Homo sapiens: one gene and its partners. The protein of the gene in region 7 purifies or fractionates together with the protein of the main gene of each other region. This does not show direct contact. Each region holds a gene or a part of one and is shown on either strand. Other genes may lie near its edges.

Region 1 (4,023 bases), on a different chromosome or scaffold from region 7:
TAGCAACCAGTTTGGATCAGGAAGCTGCCTGAGTGCTAAATAAGGTTGCAGTGGCCTTCTCTCTTTCCCTTGCCTCCAACAACAAACAATTACAGATATTTACTGGGCACTTGTTACAGGCCATGCACTTTGCTGGGTACTTTTAAACATGTGTTTTCTCATCTTGAGAGAGGCTTGGGAGTCATTTGAATTTTACTTTTTCCTCCATCATAGTGATATATTATTCCTTTATCAACTCTTAGCTTTATTTCATTGTTCATCATCTGTTCTCTCTCTCTAGGGCCTGTGTTTGGAAACATGGACAAATTTGTGGGGCTGGGAGTATTTGTAGACACCTACCCCAATGAGGAGAAGCAGCAAGAGGTAATGGCAAGTGTCAGAGCCTAGGTCAGCTACACTGACATCACAGTTCTTTGCCTCAGGAATGTTGTACAGGAGGGAACAAAGGAGATAGAAAGTGAGGGGTTCTTCATCTGTTGAACTTTGAAAGTTAATGTCCTTGTCAGTGTTTTTTTCTAAAGGGACTATTTAGGAGTGCACAGTCTTTTGGGAATAGCTGTCTTGAACAGGGGCTTTTTCTTTAGTGATAATCATGTTCTCTCTTGTGCCTATTAGATAGCCACTAAAATTGAGCATGTTTGGTTGATTGGTGATTTGGCTGCTAGACCAGCACCAGAGCAAGCTGAATTTACGTAACTCAGCCTCCCCTGACTTTTAATCCATCAGTGCTGTGCTCTCTTCTGCAACTTGCACACACTTTTCAGCTTCTTTTTCTTCTTCTTCTTCTCAGACCTGAAGAACAGTTCTCCTCGCCTATAGAAAAGGCTATAATTGGCCAGGTGTGGTGGCTAACACCTGTAAGCCCAGCACTTTGGGAGGCCGAGGTGGGCAGATCACCTGAGGTCAGGAGTTCGAGACCAGCTTTGCCAACATGGTGAAACCCCGTCTCTACTAAATATATAAAAATTAGATGGGTGTGGTGGTGGGTGCCTGTAATCCCACCTACTCGGGAGGCTGAGGCAAGAGAATCACACCATTGCACTCCCCCCTGGGCAGCAGAGTGAGACTCTTGTCTCAAAAAAAAAAAAAAGAAAGAAAGAAAAGGCTATAACGAGAAGGAAACTGATGAAAGCCCAGCATTTTGTTGGAACCTAGTATCTGGCTGTTGGCAGGCCTTTTTGTTACCTGACCTAAGAGTTTTTTAGTGCTTTCTTTTTTTTTTTTAATTTTTTTTTTTTGAGACAGAGTCTCACTCTGTCGCCCAGGCTGGAGTGCAGTGGCGCGATCTCGGCTCACTGCAACCTCTGCCTCCCAGGTTCAAGCTATTCTTCTGCCTCAGCCTCCCGCGTAGCTGGGACTACAGGCGCATGCCACCACACCCAGCTAACTTTTGTATTTTTAGTAGAGACGGGGTTTCACCATGTTGGTCAGGATGGTCTCGAACCCCTGACCTCGTGATCCGCCTGTCTCGGCCTCCCAAAGTGCTGGGATTACAGGCGTGAGTCACCATGCCCGGCTATTGCTTTCTTATATTGACAGTGGGTTTGTACTCTCTCTATGTCCTACGGCACTGCCATCAGATGGTGGGAAATTATGACAGGTTGTTGCTGGGTATCCTGTAGCTAAGTACCTAGCGAGGAAATCAGGATTAGAAATAGAGGCAAAGGTCACATTATTTTTTTCCTCAAAGGTTTATTATGAAAATTTTCAAACTTAAAAAACATTAGAAGGCCAGGCATGGTGGCTCACGCCTGTAATCCCAGCACTTTGGGAGGCCGAGGTGGGCAGATTACTTGAGGTTAGCAGTTTGAGACCAGCCTGGCCAACATTATGAAACCCTGTCTCCACTAAAAATACAAAAATTAGTATTTTTATTAGTATTAGTGTTAACCTGTAGTCCCAGCTACTTGGGAGGCTGAGGTGGGAGAGTCACTTGAACCTGGGAGGTGGAGGTTGCAGTGAGCTGAGACCACGCCATTGCACTGCAGCCTGTAATCCCAGCTACTCAGGTTGCTGAGTCAGGAGAATGGCTTGAACCCAGGAGGCGGAGGTTGCAGTGAGCTGAGATCACACCACTGCACTCCAGCCTGGGCAACAGAGCAAGACTGTCACCAAAATAAACAAAAAAAATTAGAAGAATAGAGAATGATCATTGTATCTGTGATGCTTAGATTCAACAGCTGTTAACATTTCCCACAGAACTCACTTTTTATTTTTTATTTTTTTTATTTTTTGAGATGGAGTCTCGCTCGTCTCCAGGCTGGAGTGCAGTGGTGCAATCTCGGCTCACTGCAACCTACATACACCTCCTGGGTTCAAGCCATTCTCCTGCCTCAGCCTCCTGAGTAGCTGGGATTATAGGCACACGCCACCACGCCCAGCTAATTTTTGTATTTTTAGAGACAAGGTTTCACCATGTTGGCCAGGATGGTCTCCATCTCCTGACCTCAGGTGATTCCTCCACCCTGGCCTCCCAAAGTGGTGGGGTTACAGGTATGAGCCACTGTGCCCAGCGAGCTCACTTTAAAGGTGGTGGAATGTGAGACCTGAGTTAGGAGAATAACCTTTTGTTGTGGATCAGTTACAGCTGCTTCTCTGTGTTCCTTCTGGGCTGTTCTTCATTCCACATACATTAACCACTTTCTAGGTGCCAGGCCCTGGGAATTAGTGAGCAAGATAACATGGTCCTTGTACTCAGTAGCACTGAGAATGCTGATGGGGGAACTCTGGGGCACTATGGGAGGACACAGCAGGAGCTTCTAACCTGAAGTGGGGCAGTAGTGTTGGTGGTAGTGGGGAAGGCTTCTTCCAGGAAGTGCCTTTTAGGTTGAGGTCTGCAGAGTAAGGAACCCGTGTCCCATGCAGAGGGAAAAAAGCCGAGGTCCTAAGGTTAAGAGAGGGGATGATGAGGCTGGGTGCAGTGGCTCATGCCTGTAATCCCAGCACTTTGGGAGGCCAAGGCGGGTGGATCACGAGGTCAGGAGACCGAGACTATCCTGGCCAACATGGCGAAACCCCGTCTCTACTAAAAATACAAAAATTAGTCAGGTGTGGTGGCATGCTTCTGTAGTCCCAGCTACTCAGGAGGCTGAGGCAGGAGAATCGCTTGAACCTGGAAGGTGGAGGTTGCAGTGTGAGCTGAGATCACGCCACTGCACTCCAGCCTGGGCGACAGAGTGAAACTCCATCTCAAAAAAAAGAGAGAGAGAGGGGATAATGAGTGTGTGGAAATAAAGTAGAATCAGAGACAGATGAGGCTAGAATGAAAAGCAGGGCCAGTAGTCTTGTTATGTTGCACAGTTCCTAGGGCTGCTGTTCACCTTGCATTCTACAATATTAACACTGTAGCCTCGGCATGTTAACTAGCCGCTGAGACTGACTGGCATCTGCTTGGGTGGTTGGTGGCTGAACTGTTTAGATGAGAGCCAGAGCAGACTGAATGTATGTGACTCATGCTCACCATATACCACTTGGGGCCAAGTTCTGAAGGATTGTGTTCCTGTTGAGGAGTCTGGACTTGATTCTGAAGGGGTAGGTACATTAAAGGATTTTATTGAAGAGAGGATCATGACTGGATTTGTAGTCATGCTGAGGAAATAGTGGTAGTTAGAAATGGATCTGAATAAGAGTTATCAGCTTTAGGGCCTGACAAGAGTTTTAAACTTGTCTCTCTGTTTCTTCCAGAAACAAATTGTTCAAACTCTGTTAGCTTCCATTTCACCATGAGATAGTAGTAATTCTGGTTTGAGAAAGTAGAAATTCTGACTTGGGTTTATTTTGTAAGGATTTTGTAGATGTTAATTAAAAAAAATTTATTTTAGATGGTAAAAATTGAGACATCTTTTCTGGCTAGCTATTGTGGTTCTTACTTCCAAGTGCACATTGTAATTCCCTGGAGAACTTTTAAAAATATTGACATCCAGTCCCAACCCCAGAGCTTCTGATTCAGTTCGTCTGAAGTGCAGTCTAGGCAGCCTTCCTCTTTTAAAGCTTTCCAGGAGATTCACATGTATAGCCGAGGTT
Region 2 (4,023 bases), on a different chromosome or scaffold from region 7:
TCAGTTGATCCGCCTGCCTCGGCCTCCCAAAGTGCTGGGATTACAGGCGTGAGCCACTGCGCCCGGCCAAACTTTTTCTTTTTTTAATGAAAAAGGTTTTTCATGACTTTCAGAGAAGCAGTTTGCTCCCAACACGGGCTTGCGTGCGTGTTAACCATGTGGACCGGAGCCCACGTGGGCCTCCGTAGGCGGAGCGCATGGGTCTGGAGGAAACCAACCCGGAACTCACTCCACGCAGAGCTCCCGCCTCCGCCCTGGGTCTGGCCTAGTCTCTAGCTGATTGGACCTTTTTGACCAAGCGCCACGTGCTAGTGTCAGCTGTGGCTCTCGGCCTCTGCACTCAGACCGCTTTCCTTAGTGAACACATTCAGCTGGAAGTATTTGGGGAGCCCGGTGTTGAAAGCAAACATCTGTGTCATTTTTACAAGGGCAGGTCTGAGGTCCAGTTCCTGCGGGGGCGGTCAAGATGGAGGGTGGGGGCTGGCAGGGGCCTGGGGGAGCCTCCTTCCCCCACGCACCCCCTCGGTAGTGGGATGGATGGGCTCCTTACCTGCTGCCACTCTGCCTCCGTGCCGTGTGTGAATCCCAGCAAGTGACAGAGTCCGTGGGTGGCCGTCACCTGTCAGAATAATTTTAAACCGGCTCAGAGGATGACCCCACAGGAACCTGCCCCTTCAGGGCCACCCCAGGGCCACAGGCTGCTCTTGGTATGTGGCTGCAGGACCCCAGGGTTGCTGTGAGACCCCTGGGCAGGAATTACAGGCACTCAGCTTCAGTTCCCTTCCATCTAAAATGGAAAGCAAGCAAGCCCCTTTGAGAGTCTTTAGTCAACGTGGATTGCTGTCTGGGCCAGCACTGTGCTGGGGAGGGGCCCCCAGGATGGAACTGCCCAGCCGCAGGAGCAATGGGCAAGGGGGGATGGAATATGAAGAAGTGGGGAGGGGTGGGTGCCACGGGGTGGTGGGGCAGTGGGGCACCGGCCAGGGGTGGCCTCCCTGCCCTAAGAGGGACGAGGCAAGCGCACAGCCCACACCCCAGGTCCAACCCCCAGTCAGGATGGGGCCTCCGGTGGCCCCTGATTTTACTGAACACTCTGGGTAGAGCTTTGGGGCACAGGCAGCACAGGGAGTGCGGGAGAGGTATGAAGGCGGAGGCGGAGGGAGGTGCAGCTGCTGGTGAGTCAGGAAGACCCACAGTCGCCATGTCCCCCTGGAGAGAGGGCTGGATTAAAGCCCACAGGGGAGGGGCACCCGGATGGAGCCCAGAGCTGGGGGAAGAGGAGGAGGAGGAGGAAGAGGAGGGAGGGCCTGTGGACCCTGAGCAGGCACAGCACCAAGGGGGTTTATGGAGCCACATGGGCCATAGGGGTAGCACTCCCCTGGGGTTTGGGTGGAGGGAAGAGGGAGGTCTGGGAGGTGGGTATCCTTGGGGCTGGCGGGAGGTGCCTGGAGACATGGAGGACAAGGCAGGGTAGATGGAGAGTGCAGCTGAGAGCCAGCCCTGAGCAGAGCTGGCCTGGCCTGTGGCTATGAGGATGGGGTCCTGGGCTGGTGGGCTGGCCCTCCCCTCAGGGTAATAGGGAGCCCCAAGGAGAGGGCTCTGGGCCCGAGGAAGAAATGCCAGGGGAAGACCAGGGAACAGAATCTTAGGTTTGGGGAAAATGGAAGCAGATGTCCACATACCCCCCCGCCCACAGTTGCTGGCCACAGAGATCCCAGGGCTGAATCTCCGGCTGGGCCACTTCCTGTCACTCTCAGAAACTCCCTCTTCCCCAGCAGGGTGTGCATGGCGGGCAAGTCCCACCCAGGTCTGGAGGGAGCAGTTGGGGCCCAGGTTCCTGTGTGGCCGTCCCATCCTTTCACACTGGGTCTGGCTGGGAAGCTCTGCCTCAAGCCACACAGATGCACTTGGATCCACAAGGGCGATTCAGGGCATGGCTGTGCAGCCAAAGGAGGCCAAGTTAAGTATGATTCACTCATACATGGCTTTTCAGAATGCTTTTCCTTTTTTTTTTTTTTTTTTGGCATCAAGCTGCTGAAACCACCTGTGCAAAAATGATAACAGTGAGAGAGGTCTGGGGTGGCTGACTCCACTGAGTCCCGGGCACGGGTCAGGCTAACCGCGGGAGGAATTTAATCTAGAGTCTAACTTGCGTGGCTGTCCCCACTGAGTCCCGGGCACGGGTCAGGCTAACCGCGGGAGGAATTTAATCTAGAGTTTAACTTGTGTGGCTGACTCCACTGAGTCCCGGGCACGGGTCAGGCTAACCGCGGGAGGAATTTAATCTAGAGTCTAACTTGCGTGGCTGTCCCCACTGAGTCCCGGGCACGGGTCAGGCTAACCGCGGGAGGAATTTAATCTAGAGTTTAACTTGTGTGGCTGTCCCCACTGAGTCCCGGGCACGGGTCAGGCTAACCGCGGGAGGAATTTAATCTAGAGTTTAACTTGCGTGGCTGACTCCACTGAGTCCCGGGCACGGGTCAGGCTAACCGCGGGAGGAATTTAATCTAGAGTCTAACTTGCGTGGCTGACTCCACTGAGTCCCGGGCACGGGTCAGGCTAACCGCGGGAGGAATTTAATCTAGAGTTTAACTTGTGTGGCTGACTCCACTGAGTCCCGGGCACAGGTCAGGCTAACCGCGGGAGGAATTTAATCTAGAGTTTAACTTGTGTGGCTGACTCCACTGAGTCCCGGGCACGGGTCAGGCTAACCGCGGGAGGAATTTAATCTAGAGTCTAACTTGTGTGGCTGACTCCACTGAGTCCCGGGCACGGGTCAGGCTAACCGCGGGAGGAATTTAATCTAGAGTCTAACTTGCGTGGCTGACTCCACTGAGTCCCGGGCACGGGTCAGGCTAACCGCGGGAGGAATTTAATCTAGAGTCTAACTTGTGTGGCTGTCCCCACTGAGTCCCGGGCACGGGTCAGGCTAACCGCGGGAGGAATTTAATCTAGAGTCTAACTTGCGTGGCTGTCCCCACTGAGTCCCGGGCATGGGTCAGGCTAACCGCGGGAGGAATTTAATCTAGAGTCTAACTTGCGTGGCTGACTCCACTGAGTCCCGGGCACGGGTCAGGCTAACCGCGGGAGGAATTTAATCTAGAGTCTAACTTGCGTGGCTGTCCCCACTGAGTCCCGGGCACGGGTCAGGCTAACCGCGGGAGGAATTTAATCTAGAGTCTAACTTGCGTGGCTGACTCCACTGAGTCCCGGGCACGGGTCAGGCTAACCGCGGGAGGAATTTAATCTAGAGTCTAACTTGTGTGGCTGTCCCCACTGAGTCCCGGGCACGGGTCAGGCTAACCGCGGGAGGAATTTAATCTAGAGTCTAACTTGTGTGGCTGACTCCACTGAGTCCCGGGCACGGGTCAGGCTAACCGCGGGAGGAATTTAATCTAGAGTCTAACTTGCGTGGCTGACTCCACTGAGTCCCGGGCACGGGTCAGGCTAACCGCGGGAGGAATTTAATCTAGAGTTTAACTTGTGTGGCTGTCCCCACTGAGTCCCGGGCACGGGTCAGGCTAACCGCGGGAGGAATTTAATCTAGAGTTTAACTTGCGTGGCTGTCCCCACTGAGTCCCGGGCACGGGTCAGGCTAACCGCGGGAGGAATTTAATCTAGAGTTTAACTTGTGTGGCTGACTCCACTGAGTCCCGGGCACGGGTCAGGCTAACCGCGGGAGGAATTTAATCTAGAGTTTAACTTGCGTGGCTGTCCCCACTGAGTCCCGGGCACAGGTCAGGCTAACCGCGGGAGGAATTTAATCTAGAGTTTAACTTGTGTGGCTGTCCCCACTGAGTCCCGGGCACGGGTCAGGCTAACCGCGGGAGGAATTTAATCTAGAGTCTAACTTGTGTGGCTGTCCCCACTGAGTCCCGGGCACGGGTCAGGCTAACCGCGGGAGGAATTTAATCTAGAGTTTAACTTGCGTGGCTGACTCCACTGAGTCCCGGGCACGGGTCAGGCTAACCGCGGGAGGAATTTAATCTAGAGTTTAACTTGTGTGGCTGACTCCACTGAGTC
Region 3 (4,023 bases), on a different chromosome or scaffold from region 7:
ATGGTGGCTCTGCTGTGCATGTGGTTCGGGATCTCCCTGCCCCTCGTCTACTTGGGCTACTACTTCGGCTTCCGAAAGCAGCCATATGACAACCCTGTGCGCACCAACCAGATTCCCCGGCAGATCCCCGAGCAGCGGTGGTACATGAACCGATTTGTGGGGTGAGTCCTCCAGCAGAGGCAAGAGCAGGGGAACGTGGAAGAGGGTACGCCCCCCTCCGCCACCAGAAGGGTGCGGCAACCAGAGTTCCTGCCGCTTCAGCCGGCTCTAATAGAGTTTATGAAAGCTTAACTTCACTCCAAGATCAAGGTGACCAGGTTGTAGGCAGACTTGGTGTCATCCTAGGAACCAGGACAAGGAAGGGGAAGGATGGAAGGGTATAGTGAGACAGGTTAAGACCATCACTTGGACCTTGGGCAAGTCACCCCACCTCTCTGCACCCCAGTTGCCCATCTATAAAATGAGGAGAATAATGCCCACCCTGCCTACCTCTCAAGAGATTATAATAGTACAGAAATATGCCAGAAGAATTAGCACCACCACACTCGTGTAGGTGCTCTCTCTTCATGCCAGCTTGGGAAGGAGCTTGGGGCTTCCTGGTGGCCTGGTCTCTAACAATGTCAACCTCTCGTTCTGTGGCAGCATCCTCATGGCTGGGATCTTGCCCTTCGGCGCCATGTTCATCGAGCTCTTCTTCATCTTCAGTGTGAGTACTGGTGCCTCCCCCACCCCTCCACCCATGCTAGCCGGGTCACTCCCACTCCACTCGGGTGCTCTGCTGCCTACTGCCTGAGAAAGTTCAGATGGGCCACTTCACCTCTCGGAGCCCCATTCTTCACCCTGAAATTGGACAACAGCCTTCCCTCTCAGGGCAGCATTGAAAGTGAAATGAGGCTGGGCGCGGTGGCTCACACCTGTAATTTCAGCACTTTGGGAGGCCGAGGTGGGTGGATCACAAGGTCAGGAGTTCGAGACCAGCCTGTCCAATATGGTGAAACCCTGTCTCTACTAGAAAATACAAAAATTAGCCGGGCATGGTGGCACACGCCTGTAGTCCCAGCTACATGGGAGGCTGAGGCAGGAGAATCACTTGAACCTGGGAGGTGGAGGTTGCAGTGAGCCAAGATCGCGCCACTGCACTCCAGCCTGGGTGACAGAGAGAGACTCCATCTAAAAAAAAAAAAAAAAATTTAAATGAGATATGTGGTGTGTGGGGAGCCTGGTGTGTGGAAAGGGGGACTTGGTAAATAGAAGCTGCCTCAGTGATACTTCAGTCATTCCCCACCATGACTAATAGCATCGTTGCACCTGGTTTCATTTCTGGGTCCTTGCACATCTTTACCTCTCTGTGTTACTCACAGCTCCTGGGAGGGTGGACAGAATGATTCCTGCTTGTCAGGGTCATTGTGAAGTTGGAATAAGTCATTGTAAAAATGCTTGACTTCAGGAAATGCTGTTGTAATGGTGATGATGACTCCTCCCAAAGAGTGCCAAGATGAAAGTTGGTAGGAAGGCCCTTCAGAGGCATGTAAGTGTGGCTGACCCAGCTCGGGGCCCAGCACAGATGGTACCTTGTACCAAGTCAGTACCGGACATGTATCTGCTATTCCAGAGTAGTGGCCCAGCCCCTCCCTGCTGAGACCACCTCACCCACACAGGTTTGCCTGGGAGAAGGGTCAGAGGAGGTGTTGGCTGCCCATGGTACCAAAGCCCATGTGCACTTCCCAGGGAAGCCCCCTCTGTTTCATCTGTGTGACTCTGGGCCAGTCACCAGCGTCTCTGATCCTTGACTTTCTTAGCTCTACCAGGCCAAGCTTTCATAGACACACACATGTAGCAATTGTATATGAGGCATGTGGCATAAGGCCTAGCGCTTGGTAAGCTGCTCAAGTGGTGGTGGCTGCTCTATAATTTTGATTTGGATAAGAATCATTATTTTCTACAAGCTGCTGAGTTCAGGCTGGGGTCTACCCAGAGCAGGTCAGTCAACCCCTGGCCCCTCCCTAAGGACAGTGTGGCTCACCCCCTGCTCTGGGGAAGAGGGGCCAGAGCCACATGCCAGGCCCACGGGCCCTGATGGTGTCATGATGATGTGTCCACTCCTGCCCTTGTGACAGGTTGGTGTGCCAGGGGAAGGGGAGCAGGGTGGTCAAGCCAGCTGAAGCCCCACTGTGTGTCCACAGGCTATCTGGGAGAATCAGTTCTATTACCTCTTTGGCTTCCTGTTCCTTGTTTTCATCATCCTGGTGGTATCCTGTTCACAAATCAGCATCGTCATGGTGTACTTCCAGCTGTGTGCAGAGGTGAGGAGAGCAGGGCCAGGAGGCGGGGGAGGGAGAACTGGATCCAGCATTGAACGGGTTGATGAGGCTCTGCGGAGAGGCTGGGTCTGGGCTCTTCATGTGGCCCCTGCTTCTGGCTCTGAGCTCTTGGGCCAGTACGTTGCTGTGCCTCTCCCAGCCTCCATGTATTCAGCTGTACCCTGGGCCTAATGAGATACCTTCCAGCTTAGTTGTGTGGGGTACTCACCACAGCTAGATGAAAGGACAGTAGATTTGCCAGTGCCAAGTCCACTCCAGTAGTAGTTTCTTCAACAGGCTGATGCACACTGGGTGGCCTGCCCTCCCTCTGGGAACTGGCCATTGGCAGAGTGGGTGAAGCCAGGGTTTGGGATGAACAGTCCCTCTGGGCTGGGACCCTGGCTCCTCCATGAGTAGCTCTGGGTCTTGGGCGGGTTGCTTAACTTCATGCCATCCGTTCCTCCTCCACATGATGGGGTGAGTGAGAGGACCTAACTTGGAGGGCTGCTCTCAGGATTAAATGAGTGGATTCATCTATAGCACTTAGAGTGGTGTTTGCCAGCCAGGCACGGTAGCTCACGCCTGTAATCCCAGCATTTTGAGAGGCTGAGGCGGGCAGATCACAAGGTCAGAAGATCGAGACCATCCTGGCTAACATGGTGAAACCCCATCGCTACTAAAAATACAAAAAGTTAGCCGGGTGTGGTGGCACGTGCCTGTAGTCCCAGCTACTTGGGAGGCCGAGGCAGGAGAATCACTTGAACCCAGGAGGCGGAGGTTGCAGTGAGCCGAGATCGCACCACTGCACTCCATCCTGGGCGACAGAGTGAGACTCCATCTCAAAAAAAAAAAAAAAAAAAAAAAAAAAAGAATAGTGCCTGCCACATGCTAAGCATTTGCTCGAGAAATGTTAATTATTTTTTTGTTGTTGATTTTTTTTTTAATGAGGTATAAACTGTAAAGTTCACCCTTCTTTGTCCACAGTTCTGTGGTTTTTAGAAATGCATACAGTTCTGGAACCACCATCACAGTCAAGCTGTGAAACATTTCCATCACCCCATATGTTACTGCTCTTACCAGAGTCTTCAGCCCCTCAAGCAACTGTGAAATTGGTAGGAAGGGGTTCTGCCCCAGGACAACACTGACCTTCCTCTGTTTCCTCCTCAGGATTACCGCTGGTGGTGGAGAAATTTCCTAGTCTCCGGGGGCTCTGCATTCTACGTCCTGGTTTATGCCATCTTTTATTTCGTTAACAAGGTACTGCCCTCCTTGAGGAGGTCCTCTTAGTCCTCATAGGGTAGGAAGGTCAGGAGGAGGATGCTGGGAGAAAAACCCAAGTGCCTGAATCTTCCTTTTCCACCCAGAATGGGGAGGACCAAAGCCACCTAGAACTGTTCCTGCTCTAGAAGATGGATCTTTTTAGGAAAGAAAGAATCTGTATTCTGTATGTTTGGGAGACAAAGGCCATCAGGATACGTGACAATGTGAATAATGCTTGTAAAACTTACGAGGTATAGCCATAGCCAAAGCAGGACTTGAAAGCAATATGTCACCTGCAGTGCTCTTCACAGGAAATAAGAGGGACTAATAACACCTTGAGAAAAAGGAAAAGATAAGAGTAACATGAAAGAAGAAAAGTAGAAAGGAGTTAATAAAGATAAAAGCACAAAATGCTGAAATAGTCTAAATAGTAGAACCCAAATTTAGGGCTGCAGGTATCCTG
Region 4 (4,023 bases), on a different chromosome or scaffold from region 7:
TCTGTTTCTGGTCTCCCAGATCTTCTTTCTCATTCATAATTACCATAACATCAGAATCAGCGAAATAAAAAGTACGTGAGAAATTGTAAAACATTTTTGTACTGTGGACCATATATCACTCCTGCTTATAACTAGACATAAATTATAATTAACATCATCAGAATTACATACACTAATTTTAAGGGAATTCTAATGACATACTATTTTAAAAGAAATTATTAAAAGGGAATTATTAAATTCAAACACAAAGTTGCAGGTACTGCCATGTCAATAAATATTAGTGCAACAAGAAACTAGTCCATGTTTATGATGTAACTAAAGGACATTCACAGACTATAAATTGGAATGCCTAATGTTATATGGTGGACTTTGCTGCTGAGAATTTAGGAGCAGGACTGACTGGTGGGGTATCGGATCTGCCACTAACTTTAAACCTTAAACATTGTTTAAAATAAATGCCTCAAATTGACTAATTTCCTCCATTAAAAGTATAAAGTTCTTGGGAATAAATGAGACAGCAAAAGCCAAGTTATTATTTTACATTTTTACATTCAATATTAACAGTTTATCATATTAATTCATGTAATCGCCAGGCAGTAGACAATTAGAATTACCTGGAGAAAGGAAAGTATACATTTTGCAATATATCATACAGCTTTAGTAAAATGAACAAATAAACACCAAAGTCTTTATTTCTGAACATGAAAAAAATTACCATATGCTTGTGTAGCAAAGACAACACAGCAGGCTTGGTTGCTCAAACCTTATATAACTTCAGGAGGGCCTATGTGCATGCCTGACCTCTGGACAACTCGTGAGAATATATCCCCAGGAGTATTCCCCATTAGAAGGTTTTTTGTATGTCTGAAGCACTAAACCAACTTGTCCAGGTTGATCTGTACACTGCGATTTATAGTACACTTCTTTCCTTCTGTGGGTTTGAAGTTTTGCTCATCACAACTGGCCTAAAAGACAGAATGTATCCATATAACCCATGCTCAATAAAAGCCCTACACTCAAAACTCAAATGGGTTTCCCAAGGCAGAAGCACTTTGTATACTTCACAGCTCACTGATAGAAGGATAAGCACATCCTGTGCAATGCCATAAGGGAGGACTTTGGAAGCCTATTTCTGGACAACTCCTGATGTGCCTTTTTCCCTTACCGATTCTGTTTTCTATCCTTTTGCTGTAATAAACCGTATCTGTGAATGTAACCTCTTCAGGTCCTGCAAGTCCTTCTAGTACATCATCAAACATGTGGGTGGCTGTGAGGCTTAAAAAACAATACCTCAGAAAATGAAAGCATTCTAATATTAAAAATGCAAGACTTTGTCCAACCATGCTGATTATAGGATAAAATAACAATCATTATTTAGTAGAAAAAACATTAAATTTCAACTTACAGGGTAGGAGGAAGGCCACTCCATAGAGATTTAATGCCCTCATTTCGAATGATTTTAAAAAATGCATCCTAAAGTTATAATAGAAAAAAAGTAATCAAAATATATCTTTAAACCTTTTATACAAAAATTTATACTGATGATTGGTAATTTCATTCTTTCAGGTATTTATATCTAAAAAAATAAGCTTTTTGGATTTATGTATGTCCATTCTTTTTAAAAAGGGAATTTTAACACAATTAAAATGAAGCATTTCTGGATGATACTAACTTCTTACAGAATGAAGTCTATATTACTCAGCTCTAGATTGTTCTACTAAGAGCTTAGAAAAAAAGCTTTAGAAAAGATTATTATAAGAAAGGAAGTAGAGCAAAAGCAGAGAACTGGTTAAACTTGCTTAAGTATGAAATTAGAGAAAATATTAAAATGTGCTATGTGAAATCTTTGGAGAGGAACCAAAAGTAGGCAGAGCTGAAGAGAAGTCTTCTATTAACAGACAGACTCTTACAATTTGATAACAAAAAGATAAAGTAATTAAAAATTGGCTAAGGATTTGAATATATATTTCTCCAAAGAATACATACAAATGGCCAATAAGCACACGAAAAACTGTTTGGCTGCATGCAGTGGCTCAGGCCTGTAATCCCAGCACTTTGGAAGGCAGGAGACCCCTTGAGCCCAGGAGTTCGACATCAGCCTGGGCAATATAGTTAGAACTTATCTCTACAAAAAGCTAAAAAATTTGCTGGGCATGGTGACGCACTCCTGTGGTCCCAGCTACTTGGGAGTCTGAGGTGGGAGGACTGCTTCAGCCCAGCAGGGAGAGGCTGCACTGAGCTGAGATCACACCACTGCACTCCAGGCCTGGGCAACAGAGTGAGACCCTGTCTCAAAAAAAAAAAAGAAAAGAAAAATAGAAAAAGGAAAAATGTTCATCATTGATTATTATGAAAATGCAAAGCAAAACTACAAATGAGATGTGACTTCATACCTACTAAATAAGCTAAAATTATAGAGACAGACAATAATAAATTCTGGTGAAAATGTGAAGAAATTGGAACCCTTAGATACTACTGGTGAGAATACAGAATGGTGTAGCTACTTTAGAAAATAGCCTAGCAGTTTCTCAGAAGGTTAAACATAGTTATCACATGACTCAGTAATTTCAACTCCAGTTACATTCTGAGGGAAATTAAAACACATATTCACATAAGGTTATATCCAAGAGAAATTAAAACACATGTTCACACAGAAACATGAATGTCCATAGAATTAATTATTCCAAAAAGTAGAAACAACCCAAATGTCTATCAAATGATGAATGAATAAATTAAATGTAATATATTCACATAATATTACTTGGCAATAAAAGAAATAAAATACTGATACATACTACAACATGGATGACTCTTAAAACACTATGCTAAGTAAAAGACATTAGTCACAAAGGACTGCATATTTTCCCAGCTACGGGAACCCTAGTAAGACAGAAAACTTTTAGACAATAACCACTCTGCTCTAGCCAAACACCAAAGTGAAACTTGTGGCACCACCCAGACCCATATCAGCAAAGGCCAAGTAGGTAGCCTAGACTTCCACCAATGTAAGGCTGACAGAAGGTCAATAAGGAACCAAGATTTTTACCCCTACCAGGTCAGCAATAAGGCTCCTTTGTCCCTCTGCTAGGGTGGTGTCACAGGAGGAATAGTGGAGAGTCACTACTTTCACGATCACCCAGCAATGAGACTACCCCACTACACCGTCAGTGGAAACCATATAGAAAGCCAGAATTCCCACACATGCTCAAGAGCAAAAGAGGTCTTCCCTCACACTGTGTGTCAATAGAGGCTGGGTGGGGAACCTGGACTTCTAACGCTACCCGGCAGTAACAAGATGACATCCTTTCTTCCCCATGGAAGCAATGACAGAAAAAGACAGCTAAAATAGAATGTTTTAAGTGAGATTAAAGAGTTTAATGGAATGCTAAAAAATGTTCCAGTAACTTACAAAGGAAGGCAGGAAAGGCAAAACAGAAATAGAAAACACAACAAAGAGAAAATTTTTTTAAAAAGATAGGCTTAAGTCCTACTCTCTAATTGCATTATAATAGTTAAACTAAGTATACTAATTAAAAGGTAAAAACTGACAGAGTGAAATTAAAACATGACTCAATTTTATGCTGTCTAAAAGAAATTCACTTCAATTATAATGTCATAAGCAGGTTGAAAATGGATTGAAAGACTCAACACATTAAAGATGTTATTACCCTCCAAATTAACATACAAGTTGAATGCCATTCCAATAAATACCCTGGCAATATTTTTTTGTAAATATAAACAGGATTATGCTAAGATTTATGTGGAAAGACAAAGGAACTTTGGGAATAGCGAAAACAACTTTGAAAAAAAAATAAATAAATAAGGACCAGATGCTGTGTCTCACGCCGGTATCTCAGCACTTTGGGAGGCCACGGCAGGAGGACTGCTTGAGCCCAGGAGTGTGAGACTAGCCTGGGCAACATAGTGAGACCCTGTCTCTACAAAAAATAAATCACAGTGGCACATGCCTATAGTCCCAGCTATTTGGGAGACGGAGGTGGGAGAATCTCTTGAGGCGTACAG
Region 5 (4,023 bases), on a different chromosome or scaffold from region 7:
TATTTTTCTAATGGCCTATATATCTTACAGAGTTTACGTTTCTGATGGGATGATTTTTAATCAAAAGTTTCTACAGTCTATTTAGAATTTAGACTAAATGGAAAAGACTTTGTTCAATGTTTGTGGTATGCATGGGCAAAAACTGTATCTTTCCATTTTCATTTCTAATTGGATGAGATTATTATCTACATTGGATGATGTTAAGATGCATACTAATTGACAGGGGTGGTGCCATATAAAGGATATATTGATCAAAAAATGTGGCTACCTGAGTGTCATGTTACTTTCCATTATAAGCATTACTTGAAATGGAATTATCTGGAATGCCTTAAAAAAAAGCTTCAAGATCCATTTATTTAAAACAGAGCAAATATGACAAAAGTTTAACATATTTAAAATAAGTCGTTAAGAAATCACAAATCAATGAAGAAAATATGTATATTTGTAATAGAAAACCATACAAATGACTTGAACATGACAATCCAAATAAAGGAAATTCAAATGAGATGCAACTTCTTTTATCAAAGTGACAGGGATTAAAGCAATAATACTCAATAGTGAGGAGAGGGCCGTGACATGAAAACAGTGATATGTTTCAATGTAAATGTGAATTTTTTAACTCTTTTAGAAATCATTTTAAATCTACAGGACGTTTTCAAAAATAAAAGTTATGCAAAGAACACACCTCTATACCTTTTACCCAGAATCACCTATTCTAATTATTGGCCCCATTTGTTTAATCATTCCCGTTCCTCCTTTCCTGCCCCCCCCCACGAGCCCCTCCTGTACACACACACACACACACACACACACACACACACACACACAATTTTTTTCTGAACCATCTGAGAACAAGTTGTATGCATAAGGGCTTAAGAGTTTAATTTTTCAATTGAAATTTTAAAGATATTTCTAACTTTAAATATAGTTGCCAAAAAATAGAGATCCTGTATACCTTTGACCCAGTTCCCCCAATGGTAGCATTTGGAAAACCTGTAGTACAATATTAAAACAAGTATATTGACACAATTTACTTCTCTTTTTCAGATTTCCCAAGCTTTATGTGTAGTCATTCTTGTGTACCTATGTATGTAATTCTTAAGGCTGAGTTTTACTCTCACCTCTAGTATAAGCCAGTTATGCATGTTACTGTTCAAATAAAGTTTAAGATTTGTGCAGGGTTGAAGAATAAATCAGCCTTTTTGAAGTGGAGGTACACCCAGCTTAATAAAGGTACTCAAATCGAGTTAATAGAATAGCACTTTTTTTTAAATACATTGCTTTGGCTCAGGAACATGATCTTTAACCAAAAAAAAGAAAAACGATTATGAGCAGACTTGAATAAACCAAATTACTGTTCTTTTCACTCTGGAAGAATTAAGGTATTTTCTCTGCCATTCCCCAGTCCCTTTTATGAAAAGATTTGCCATAGAAACAGAGTTGGGATATGGCGAAAGCAGTTATTTCTGACAGTTGCTGGTATTGATTGCATTAGTATCGTATCAATTTCTCCACTAATATCAAAATTTCTTCACTAATTTCTCTTTAAATTGTGACTTTTGGGGAAACCAGTAGGAGTAGAGAGATGGAAAGTGGTAGGTTTTTAAGATTATTTCGGTGATCCATTTGGATAAAATAATGCCTACAAGGAATCATATCGACATTTAAAGCAATTCTGTAGAAGGGTTACATTCTAAAGCTTCCGGAAACAGGACTAAAGCAAATTGTATTTTGTAGCCTATGTAGATTGAAAAAGAGAACAAGTTTGCAACAGAGGTAGTGTGGGTCTCAAAAAGGACGCTAGGTTGGAAGCCAAGTGACAAAAAGGATCTTTTGGCTCTGACACCACTGATCTTATGATCTTGGGCAAGTAGTTTAGTATCTCAGTTTTTCACCTGTAAGATGATAGGTTTTTTTTGCATAATCTTTAGGTTTCTTCCAGATATAGGAGTCTATGACTGTCTTTTACTTAAAAAATGTTCCTGCTGTCTTCAGTAGAACTTTAAGGCCACAATCAAAATGGTGTAAGAGTGTACTTTTGTGTGTGTGTGTTTTTTTTCCTTGTAGTTCCTATTTAGAACCTTAGTAACCCTGTTCAGGATTTTCCATTCTTGGGAGATAGTTATTTAAATCTCAGGGATATATCTTTGCTAAGTGATCCCCTGAGAAAACACATAGTACTTTCCTTCCTCTGTTCTATTCTTAATTTATTTGTTTATCTTCTTCAGTAAACAGTAAAGTGGATGAAAGTTGGCCTGTCCTATGGTTTGTTTAGTTACAAGTGCTTGCCTTGTTGGGTTTCTTTTCTGTCTGAAGTGATAGAGTCTGGAGACATGGAATGCCTTAAGCCATGGTCATCATTTGCAACTGATAGGATTGCAGGCAGCTTTGATAAGACAGCTTCAGAATTGAATATGGAATCCCTAAATGCTGAAACCTTTTATAGCAAAGAAGTTGCCTGAGCGCATAAACAGTGTTTTGTGGCCAAACTAATGAGCAGGAATCTATGAGTATTATTTAGAGATTAAATGAATCTGAGAGAAAGCTATTATTCACACATTGATGAAAGATAATTGTCGTATGTCAAAGAGTGTAAGAAGCTGGGAATTCTCTTGAGCTGATACATCCTTCTGTTAATATCTGTAAGGGTGACAGCCAGGTTTGATTGGTCTGTCTCTTTATTTTTCTGGACCTAAGTTTCCTTTTTTTGTGAAATGAGGTTAGATTAGACTTCAGCATTGGTCCTCCTAGCTCTAAATTTCTTTGAATATGTAATTGTGCTTTTGTTTTAAAAGCATACTCATTCATCCAGCATCAGTAGGAAACAGGCCTATTCTTCCAAATAAGTGAACTTTCTATGGGACGGAAGTTTGTCACCTACCGTTTTAAAAGCCCCTACAGATTAACCTGTACTGTTATTTCCAGTTCTTTTTGGTGGGTAATATCCTATTTACAGAAGAAAAGACTAAGGGTTTAAGTACTTGCCCTACAAACCACACAGTTTATAGAGGCACCAGGAGGTAAGTTGTTGCTGTTTGAGAGTCCACATCCATTATTATAATTACTAATTTCTTACTTACTAAAACATACTTCTCATTAGCAGTACTTCTTTTAATCTCAAATATTTTGGATGGATGGATTTGAAAACAACTTGCAAACAAGAGATACTCTTCAAATCTTAACCTTTTCCTGGTTTCGAATTTTCCTAGTTTAGAATTTCCATCAGGAGAGCTGCATGATTTTAGAACTTCTAGTTTGGTGAATACTAAAACATGGCTTGAGTTTCAGATACTACTTAACATTTCTTTATTCATAGCAAACATGAATAACCAATTTCATTTCTGGCCCAGGTGATCCCAGAAGTGACCACAAAGTCAATTGATTGGTGTTGGCATATGAGATTAATCTTGTTTACTCTTGCTTGAGTCTTTTCCTTTGATTTCACTGTGGACAGAATAACACCACTTAAATGAGAATGCCTGGAATGATAGTAATCATAATAATAGCTAATATTTATTGAGTACTTGCTGAGTGTCAGGAACTGTTCTTGAAAGGCATCGTCTTATGTAATCATCTCAGCAACACTGTGGACTAGGTTCATTGCTGTTCCTTATTTTACAGGTAAGAAATAGGAGGCACAAGGCGATCAAGCAATTTCCCAAGGTTTGCAGCATAGTTCATAAGTAGCAAACCAGATCTGTCTCACTCTAAGCTTATTCTCTTGGCTATGAGATGGAGATGGTCTCTTAAAGTTTAAAAATGCAGTCTTGAGGCAAGTGCAGGAGTCCTTTGATGTCTAATTTTGCTCATTTGAGTATTTCTCTTTCTGCTTTTCTGTTTAGTATTACACATTTTACTCAGGTAAGCAAACTGCAGGCTTTAGGGTAGATATTACTGTAACCCTAAACTATCTTATTAGTTACTCCTTGCTAAAATGAGTCTCAGTTACTACTTATAGGCAAAGTAACTCTCTCTCAGGGGATTTTCAGGTTTCCTGGAGATTTCTGACTATTGCTTACTTAC
Region 6 (3,898 bases), on a different chromosome or scaffold from region 7:
GCTCTGTCACTCAGGCTGGAGTACAGTGGCATGATCTTGGCTCACTGCAACCTCTGCCCTCCGGGTTCAAGTGATTCTCCTGCCTCAGACTCCCAAGTAGCTGGGATTACAGGTGCCTGCCACCATGGCTGGCTAATTTTGTATTTTTAGTACAGATGGGGTTTCACCACGTTGGCCAGGCTGGTCTCAAACTCTTGACCTCAGGTTATCCATCTGCCTCGGCCTCCCAAAGTGCTGAGATTATAGGTGTGAGCCACTGTGCCCAGACTTCTTTCTTTTTTTTTTGAGAGAGAGTCTCGCCCTGTCGCCCAGGCTGGAGAGCAGTGGCACAGTCTTGGCTCACTGCAAGCTCTGCCTCTGGGGTTCACACCATTCTCCTGCCTCAGCCTCCTGAGTAGCTGGGACTACAGGCGCCCACCACTACGCCCAGCTAATTTTTTGTATTTTTAGTAGAGACGGGGTTTCACTGTGTTAGCCAGGATGGTCTCTATCTGCTGACCTCGTGATCCTCCCGCCTTGGCCTCCCAAAGTGCTGGGATTACAGGCGTGAGCCACTGCGCCTGGCCGCCTTCTTTTTTTTATTTTGAGACAGTTTCGCTAGGTCACCTAGGCTGGAGTTCTGACTCCAGGCACGAGCCACCGTGCCTGGCCACACCCAGCTAATTTTCTAAAAATTTTTTTTGTAGGCCAAACATGGTGGCTCATGCCTGTAATCCCAGCACTTTAGCAGGCCGAGGTGGGTGGATCACGAGGTCAGGAGATAGAGACCATCCTGGCCAACATGGTGAAACCCCATCTCTACTAAACATAGAAAAATTAGCCAGGTGTGGTGGCATGTGCCTGTCGTCCCAGCTACTCAGGAGGCTGAGGCAGGAGAATCACTTGAACCCGGGAGGTGGAGGTTGCAGTGAGCCAAGATCGTGCCACTGCACTCCAGCCTGGGCGATAGAGCAAGACTCTGTCTCAAAACAAAACAAACAAAAAAAAACAAACAAATTTTTTTTTTTTTTGTAAAGACAGTGTCTTGCTATGTTGCCCAAGCTGGTCTAGAACTCCAAGTCTCAAGCAATCCTCCTGCCTCGTCCCCTCAAAGTGATGGGATTACAGGTGTGAGCCACTAGGCCAGGACTGAATTTGTTTAATTGCCTAATTTATTTATCTTCATTAGCAGAATAAAAACCCAGAATGTTTATGGCTATTGACTCTGGGGCTTATTCTGTTAATTATTTTTTGTTACTAATTTTTTCTACACTAGTTTGTTTTACAGTTAATATTATTTAAGTAATTTTAAAAGTGTTGTTGGCCGGACATGATGGCTCATACCTGTAATCTCAGCACTTTGGGAGCCTAAGGTGGGTGGATCATTGTAAGGTTAGGAGTTCGAGACCAGCCTGACCAACATGATGAAACCCAGTCTCTACTAAAAATACAAAAATATTAGCTGGGCATGGTGGTGCACACCTGTAATCCCAGCTACTCAGGAGGCTGAGGCAGGAGAATTGCTTGAACCCGGGAGGGGGAGGTTGCAGTGAGCCGAGATTGCACCACTGTACTCCAGCCTGGGCGACAGAATGAGATTCTGTCTCAAAAAAAAAAAAGTGTTAGAGGTTTGGTTGAGTTTTATGGATCTCTGAAACAAATGTGACCTTATGAAAATCAAGTCTGCATACAGTGTCCTAATGCCAACTTGAGGCCAGTTCTGAAAAGTAAATAATACAGTGAAACTTATTGGGAGATAATCATTTAAAATTTTGCAATTTGTATTCGAATTAGAAGGGTAGAGAATTCTGAATTTTTTTTTTTTTTTTTTTTTTGAGACAGAGTCTCAGTCTGTCTCCGGGCTGGAGTGCAGTGGCGCGATCTCGGCTCACTGCAACCTCCGCCTCCTGGGTTCAAGCGATTCTCCTGCCCCAGCCTCCCAAATAGCTGAGATTACATGAGCCCACCACCACACCCAGCTAATTTTTGTATTTTTAGTAGAGATGGGGTTTCGCCATGTTGGCCAGGCTGGTCTCGAACTCCTGACCTCAGGTGATCCGCCTGCCTCAGCCTTCCAAAATGCTGGGATTACAGGCATGAGCCACCGTGCCCGGCCCTTTTAGTTATTTTTAAATGTACAATATATTGTTGACTGTAGTCACCACATTGTGCTATCAAATGCTAGATCTTACTTATTTTAATTGTATTTTTGTACCCATTACCTTTTCAGCATTTTTGTCTGTTTTTATGTCCATTAAATGCTATAGTGATATCCTAACCTTTCCTTAATATATTAATGCAAACAGCAAAACATTTGCATTAAAATATATAATAGGTTTAGAATTTCTCAGAGAGAAGAGCTGGCTTTGCCTTTGAAATACCCATGGAGGCCGGGCACGGTGGCTCATGCCTGTAATCCCAGCACTTTGGGAGGCCGAGGCAGGTGGATCACCAGGTCAGGAGTTCAAGACCAGCCTGGCCAAGAGAGTGAAACCCACCTCTACTAAAAATACAAAAAAAAAAAAAATTAGCCAGGTGCAGTGGCAGGTGCCTGTAATCCTAGATACTTGGGAGGCTGAGGCAGGAGAATCGCTTGAACCTGGGCGGCAGAGGTTGCAGTGAGTCGAGATCATGCCATTGCACTCCAGCCTGGGCAACAGAGTGAGACTCTGTCTCAAAAAAAAAAAAAAAAAAAAAGAAAGAAAGAAATACCCACACATGGAAAACATCTTGGGGTCTCCACAGTGGAAAGAGGCCAGAAGATCAGTGAGCAGATTGTCATTGGCACCCCTGGGACTGTGCTGGACTGGTGCTCCAAGCTCAAGTTCATTGATCCCAAGAAAATCAAGGTGTTTGTTCTGGATGAGGCTGATGTCATGATAGCCACTCAGGGCCACCAAGATCAGAGCATCCGCATCCAGAGGTAGGGATCTCGAGGGTGGGGGACTCCTCAGATTCCCCATCTGCAGTGTCTTCTCCCTTCACTTCAGATGCCTCCTCTGGCTTCTGCCTGGGTCTTGGCTCTCGTACTCTCAGCAGCATTTGTTTGACGGGCCACTTCCGTGTCAGCGCTGGCCACAGTCCCTCCCAGCCTGGGTTGAGAAAGGAGACCTAGGGACTCTCCCCCAACCCCTGTCCCCATCCCAGGCCTGCTGCTCCTCCTCCCCAAGACGCTCCTCTCCCATCAGCCTTCCTGGGCATCTAGACCCTCCCAGCTGGGAAGGCTGTGCTTCTGTCGCTTCCCGGGGCCACCTGGGGCCACCTACCAGGGCCTTCCCTTGCAGGATGCTGCCCAGGAACTGCCAGATGCTGCTTTTCTCCGCCACCTTTGAAGACTCTGTGTGGAAGTTTGCCCAGAAAGTGGTCCCAGACCCAAACGTTATCAAACTGAAGCGTGAGGAAGAGACCCTGGACACCATCAAGCAGTACTATGTCCTGTGCAGCAGCAGAGACGAGAAGTTCCAGGCCTTGTGTAACCTCTACGGGGCCATCACCATTGCTCAAGCCATGATCTTCTGCCATGTGAGTAGCAGTGGCAGTGGCAGGCCTGGCCCTTCCCTCTCAGCCAGCTCCCCACAGGGCTCAGGAGGACTGGATGCCCCTGGGTGCCATGGGAAGAAACGAAGTGGTTTGTTCTCCTAAGGTTTTAGTGAGTCGTAAGAGGGAGACTTTGATTCCACTTCTTAGTGATTACTTGGAGAAAACCCCAAGTAACAGCCAATGAAATAATTTTTAGATTTTTAAGAATATAAGCTGGGCGGCTGGCACGGTGGCTCATGCCTGTAATCCCTGCACTTTGGGAGGCCAAGGCGGGTGGATCACCTGAGGTCAGGAGACCAAGACCAGCCTGGCCAACATGGTGAAACCCCATCTCTACTAAAAATACAAAAAATTAGCCGTGCGTGGTGGTGTGCACCTG
Region 7 (4,710 bases):
ATTTCAGACTTGCATGGGGACTGTAACCTCTTTATTTTGACCAATTTCTCCCATTTGGAATAGGTGTATTTACCCAATGCCTGTATCCCATTGTATCTAGGAAGTAACTAACTTGCTTTTGATTTTACAGGCTCATAGGCAGAAGAGACTTGCCTTGTCTCAAATGAGACTTTGGACTTGGACTTTTGGGTTAATGCTGGAACGAGTTAAGACTTTGGGGGACTGTTGGAAAGGCATGATTGTGTTTTGAAATGAGGACATGAGATTTGGAAGGGACCAGGATAGAATGATATGATTTGGCTCTCCCCTCACCCACAATCTCATTTTGAATTGTAATTTTGAATTGTAATTACCACGCACTGGGGGAGGGACCTCATAGTAGGTGATTGGATCATGGGGGCAGTTCCCCTATGCTATTCTCATGATAGTGAGTGAGTTCTCACAAGATCTGATGGTTTTATAAGGGGATTTCCCCCTTTACTCTGCACTTCTTTCTCCTGCCAGCATGTGAAGAAGAGTGTGTTTGCTTCCCCTTCCACCATGATCATAAGTTTCCTGAGGCTTCCCCAGCCATGCAGAACTATGAGTCAATTAAATCTCTTTCCTTTATAAATTACCCAGTCTCAGGCAGTTCTTCATAGCAGTGTGAGAACAGACTAATACACTACCATCATCATTCAAAAGAATAAGGGCTTACTTCTCATTGAGGTGATCACAGAAGGCTTCCTAGAAAAAGCAGCCTCTGAGACAGGCCCACAGGGATGAAGAGGGTTTGAGCTGATATAATGGGCATTGGGCAGTCCAGACAAAGAGGATTGAATCAGCAAAGGCAAAGGGATAAGAAAGCATAGAGCAGAGTATGTCATATGTGTGTCTGCAGCTCATGAGCCATGAAGAGGAGTAATGAAAATAAGATCTTAAAAAAAACACCAGACAGTTCAAAGCTAAGTCTGCAACCTACTATGTGAACTTGGACAACTCAGGCCATCTCTTCAAATTTCAATTTTCTCATTTGTAAAATAAGAGTAATAACTCCTGCTTTCCAAGGAATAATCTCCCTCCTCGAGTATCTTGTCTCTCTCTGTTATTCTCCATGCCATAAAGTCAGAGTAATCTTTCTAAAATGCAAATATGAGCATGTGAGCCCCATCTCTACCCCATGAGTCTTTGTGGCCTTCAGGATCAAACAGGAGCTCCATGGCATCGCTCACAAAGTCCTCCATGATCTCGCCTGGCCTCACCTCTCCATCCTCACTGCCAGCACTTGCTCCCTCCACAGCAAAATTTGGGATCACACTGACATACGTGCCATACTTCAGTGCCTTCAGGCACTCTCACAACAGAGAGACTTTGCATCTGCTCTCCCCTTTCCCATGTAACTGACTCCAACTGACCCTTCGAGACTCAGCACAGACATCACTTCTCCAGGAAGCTTCCTTCTATGCATACAGCACCTGTTGGGCCCTATATTGTGCTCATTTACTTCCTTCTCTCTCCTTTCTCACTGGTTTTTGCATCCCAGGGCTAAGCACAGAGCCTGGCACAAAGTGGGAATTCAGTTAAAGTACATTAAAGGAGGGAAGGAAAGAAGGGAGGGGGGAGGGAGAGACAGAGGGGGAGGTACAAATAAGATAATGTGAATTAAAATGACTTTAAAAATTGTAAAGCCCAATACAAATGTTAAGTATAATAATATTAATAAGAACTACACCTAAGCTGTGGATCCTTCCCCCCAAAATTTATAATCCAGTAGGGTAGATAAGATCTCTCAAAACTGAAGCAACTCCCGTTTCCCCTGCAGACTACTGTCTCCCCTGCATCTTTCCCTGTCAACACATAGGGTTGTACCCAATGAGGATAAAAGCCTGAAATGCTGACTCCAGGACAGTATTGGCTTAAATGTGATTTTCATGTGTCACATGAAATGTTCTTTTCACGCCAAAACCTCCCCAGTCATGCCTTCGTACTCCACTGAACTGTCTTCCTAACCCTCCAGCAGGAGGAAGGAAAGACTTTGTCAGACTCACCTAGGTCAGTCACCTCCAAATTGCCCCGAAAATCATTCCACTGGACCCAGAGCACCCATGCCAGTTCAGCTCACAGACAGCGCAGCAGCCCCAACATCTTGCCTATAGAAAGAGGTACCAGCCCCACCTCCCTATTCCCTACACCAGCCACAGCCCAGGACCTATAGGACTGGACCTCCCAAGAGCTGCAGGCCTTGCTTTTCCAGGAGAAACAGAGGTCATGGTTTGTATCAAACCACACACATTCTTTCTTGTGCCTACAGATGAGACTCACAGGACACAGGCAGTGAGGCTGCAGGACAGCAGGCTTGGGAGAGCCAGTCAAGCACCCATAAGATAGTAGAGAAGCAGCAACAGAAGGTGAGGTTTGGATTTCTTCTCTGGGGTTGTGTGATTGCTCTTGAGCTGATGTCCCTCTGAGTGGAGAGGCAGGCCTGATCTAGAGAGAATTCCAGGGCATGGCCAGTCTTTTCTTCTGCCTCAGTACCAAGGAAGCTTGGCTTTAAACCCAGCCTCTGAATAAACTGGCCTCACCTCATGTACTGCTCCACCTCAAAATTCAACTGCCCAAGCTCATGTGCTAGCCTAGAAAAAAAAATGGCCTTTAAAATTACAGGACTCCTTGCTCCTCTTTTTGAGTGGAAGTTCAACGTAATAACGATTTGTTGAGCACCACATATGTGCAAAGCACTTGATAGATCTAAGAGGGATGAAAGAGGATAATAAAGGGCAGTCCCTGGGGAGGAAACAGGAAATTGGCCACACAGGGCCCCTGCTAGGATCCAGCCCCTGTACCAGAGCTGCCTCAGGAGGCTCTTTCCACCAGCCTAGAATCCCAAGGGCAGAGGAGGGAGAGAGAAAGAAAGAGAGAGAGGCCACAGCAGGGATGGCACAGAGACGTAACCTTACCATAGGGGTCAGTGGCACTGTTGTAAAGCCTCAGGGTCTACTAGGCAATGTTCCGCTCCTGTTCTCAGGCCAGCATTGATTAAAGCTAGCCCAGCAAGCTTGGTTGGAAGATGAGGTCTCCCTGGTTCGCACATGGCCCCTCCCTGTATCCCTACTCCAACACTCACACAGACACGCGCCACAGAGACAATGAACTCTGCTGAGGACCCATGAATAGGCCCCTTGTTGCAGGAAAGGGGGACAAGGGCTGGGCTGGGCTAGGCAACCCCAGCCCCTCCCATCTGCTAACTGGAAACTCAGAAACAGAGGAAAAGGTTATGGGGAGGAGGGGAGGCCAACTACTGTTGCTTAGCAACAAGGTCCCTTGTGCCAAAAAGTGTGCCCCATGCATGCATGCTGGCAGAATTCTCCCTTCCTGCTGACAGAGCTGTATTGGAGAGACCGATATTAGCATTTGTTGAAATGTTTCTGAGCCCTCTGGATTTTATCTCGCCTCCATGTGGGTTGGCTTTTCTAGCAGTCTGGGGCTGTCACCATGTTGGAATTGTTGGGGTGATGATGGAAGATCTTTGTCACCTCTTGCCCGAGGGCCACATCTGTCTCCCCAATGCCAGGGAAGTGGGGCCTCTACCCCTGTCTGCCCTGGGAGCCAGTTGCAGCAGGAGCCCTCAGTGCTATCTTGTTTCAAAGCACAAGGTGACCCAAGTGAGCCCACACGGGGCTAAACACACCTGGGAGCAGGCACATCTCTTTAGACAAGGAGGCAGAATAGGTCCTGGGGAAGGCAAACACAGGTGGGGCTTCCTTTCCTCCAACTGGCTGCTCAAAAACCCCTCAGAAGGGACAGTTAAGAATATAGGCTTTAGAGTCAGGCCTTCATCCAACCTCAGTTCTCCCACTTCCCTTACTCAGCCTCACCTGTAAAATGAGGATAATAGTACATGCCTCATAGGGTTGATGTCAGAATTCATTGAGATATTGCCTATAAAGCCCATAGCCTGGTGTCTAGCACAGACTGTATTCAGCAAACAGTAGCTGCTATTATTATTGTTGTTGTTGTTGTTGTTGTTGTTGCTGAATGTCACCCACACAGGATTTAACTTTTTGCTCCCTATTTTCCTCATACACTGTATTAGTCAATTCTTGCACTGCTATAAATAAATACCTAAGACTGGACAATTTCAAGAGAAAAGAAGTTCTCACTGTTCCACAGGCTGTACAGGAAGCACAGTGACTTCTGCTTCTGGGGAGGCCTCAGGAAGCTTCCAATCATGGTGAAAGAAAAAGGGGGAGCAAGGCCTCTAACATGGCAGGAGCAAGAGCAAGAGAGAGAAGGGGGAGGTGCCACACACTTTTAAACAACCAGATCTCATGAGAACTCTATCACGAGAATAGCACCAAGTGGATGATGAATCATGAAGGTTTCTTGATCATGAAGGATCCACTCCCATGATCAAATCACCTCCCATCAGAGTCCACTTTTAACATTGAGGATTATAATTTGACATGAGATTTGGGTTGGGACACAGATCCAAACCATATCATACACTCAGTGTGTCAATTCTGAACTTACTCTCATCACACCAGAGCACACATAAGACAATGAAGAGATAGAGGTCAGCTGTGAATTATAGAAGAAGGAGAGAAATGGTGGCTGGAACTCAGAAGCCCTTGGCTAGGCTCTGAGGTCTCCTAGGACAATACTCTTCAGACTACAAACCTGAATATCTACCGTGTGTCAGAAACTAGCCTGGGCATGGAGGATGAACAAGTC

Evidence for each region.
Region 1: the proteins of TMPRSS5 (region 7) and LMAN2L purify together in Homo sapiens (affinity purification with mass spectrometry; one large-scale study listed by BioGRID and IntAct). This does not show direct contact.
Region 2: the proteins of TMPRSS5 (region 7) and YBEY purify together in Homo sapiens (affinity purification with mass spectrometry, with the first as the bait; one large-scale study listed by BioGRID). This does not show direct contact.
Region 3: the proteins of TMPRSS5 (region 7) and TM9SF4 purify together in Homo sapiens (affinity purification with mass spectrometry; one large-scale study listed by BioGRID and IntAct). This does not show direct contact.
Region 4: the proteins of TMPRSS5 (region 7) and SLC25A40 purify together in Homo sapiens (affinity purification with mass spectrometry; one large-scale study listed by BioGRID and IntAct). This does not show direct contact.
Region 5: the proteins of TMPRSS5 (region 7) and ADGRG6 purify together in Homo sapiens (affinity purification with mass spectrometry; one large-scale study listed by BioGRID and IntAct). This does not show direct contact.
Region 6: the proteins of TMPRSS5 (region 7) and DDX19B purify together in Homo sapiens (affinity purification with mass spectrometry; one large-scale study listed by BioGRID and IntAct). This does not show direct contact.

Annotation. Positions count from the first base shown.
Region 1 is NC_000002.12:96,729,859-96,733,881, reverse strand, and holds part of LMAN2L (VIP36-like protein isoform 2 precursor), read left to right. Parts: intron 1-280; coding exon 281-363; intron 364-4,023. UniProt on the Homo sapiens protein: May be involved in the regulation of export from the endoplasmic reticulum of a subset of glycoproteins. May function as a regulator of ERGIC-53.
Region 2 is NC_000021.9:46,292,758-46,296,780, reverse strand, and holds part of YBEY (endoribonuclease YbeY), read right to left. Parts: intron 620-4,023; coding exon 551-619; intron 1-550. UniProt on the Homo sapiens protein: Single strand-specific metallo-endoribonuclease involved in rRNA maturation.
Region 3 is NC_000020.11:32,157,809-32,161,831, forward strand, and holds part of TM9SF4 (transmembrane 9 superfamily member 4 isoform 1 precursor), read left to right. Parts: coding exon 1-161; intron 162-642; coding exon 643-706; intron 707-2,183; coding exon 2,184-2,303; intron 2,304-3,467; coding exon 3,468-3,557; intron 3,558-4,023. UniProt on the Homo sapiens protein: Associates with proteins harboring glycine-rich transmembrane domains and ensures their efficient localization to the cell surface.
Region 4 is NC_000007.14:87,848,476-87,852,498, forward strand, and holds part of SLC25A40 (mitochondrial glutathione transporter SLC25A40), read right to left. Parts: intron 1,474-4,023; coding exon 1,406-1,473; intron 1-1,405. UniProt on the Homo sapiens protein: Probable mitochondrial transporter required for glutathione import into mitochondria. Glutathione, which plays key roles in oxidative metabolism, is produced exclusively in the cytosol and is imported in many organelles.
Region 5 is NC_000006.12:142,304,643-142,308,665, forward strand, and holds part of ADGRG6 (adhesion G-protein coupled receptor G6 isoform beta 1 precursor), read left to right. Parts: intron 1-4,023. UniProt on the Homo sapiens protein: Adhesion G-protein coupled receptor (aGPCR) for steroid hormones, such as progesterone and 17alpha-hydroxyprogesterone (17OHP). Involved in many biological processes, such as myelination, sprouting angiogenesis, placenta, ear and cartilage development.
Region 6 is NC_000016.10:70,326,568-70,330,465, forward strand, and holds part of DDX19B (ATP-dependent RNA helicase DDX19B), read left to right. Parts: intron 1-2,724; coding exon 2,725-2,902; intron 2,903-3,263; coding exon 3,264-3,501; intron 3,502-3,898. UniProt on the Homo sapiens protein: ATP-dependent RNA helicase involved in mRNA export from the nucleus.
Region 7 is NC_000011.10:113,703,286-113,707,995, forward strand, and holds the start of TMPRSS5 (transmembrane protease serine 5), read right to left. Parts: upstream 3,024-4,710; 5' UTR 2,940-3,023; coding exon 2,937-2,939; intron 1-2,936. UniProt on the Homo sapiens protein: May play a role in hearing.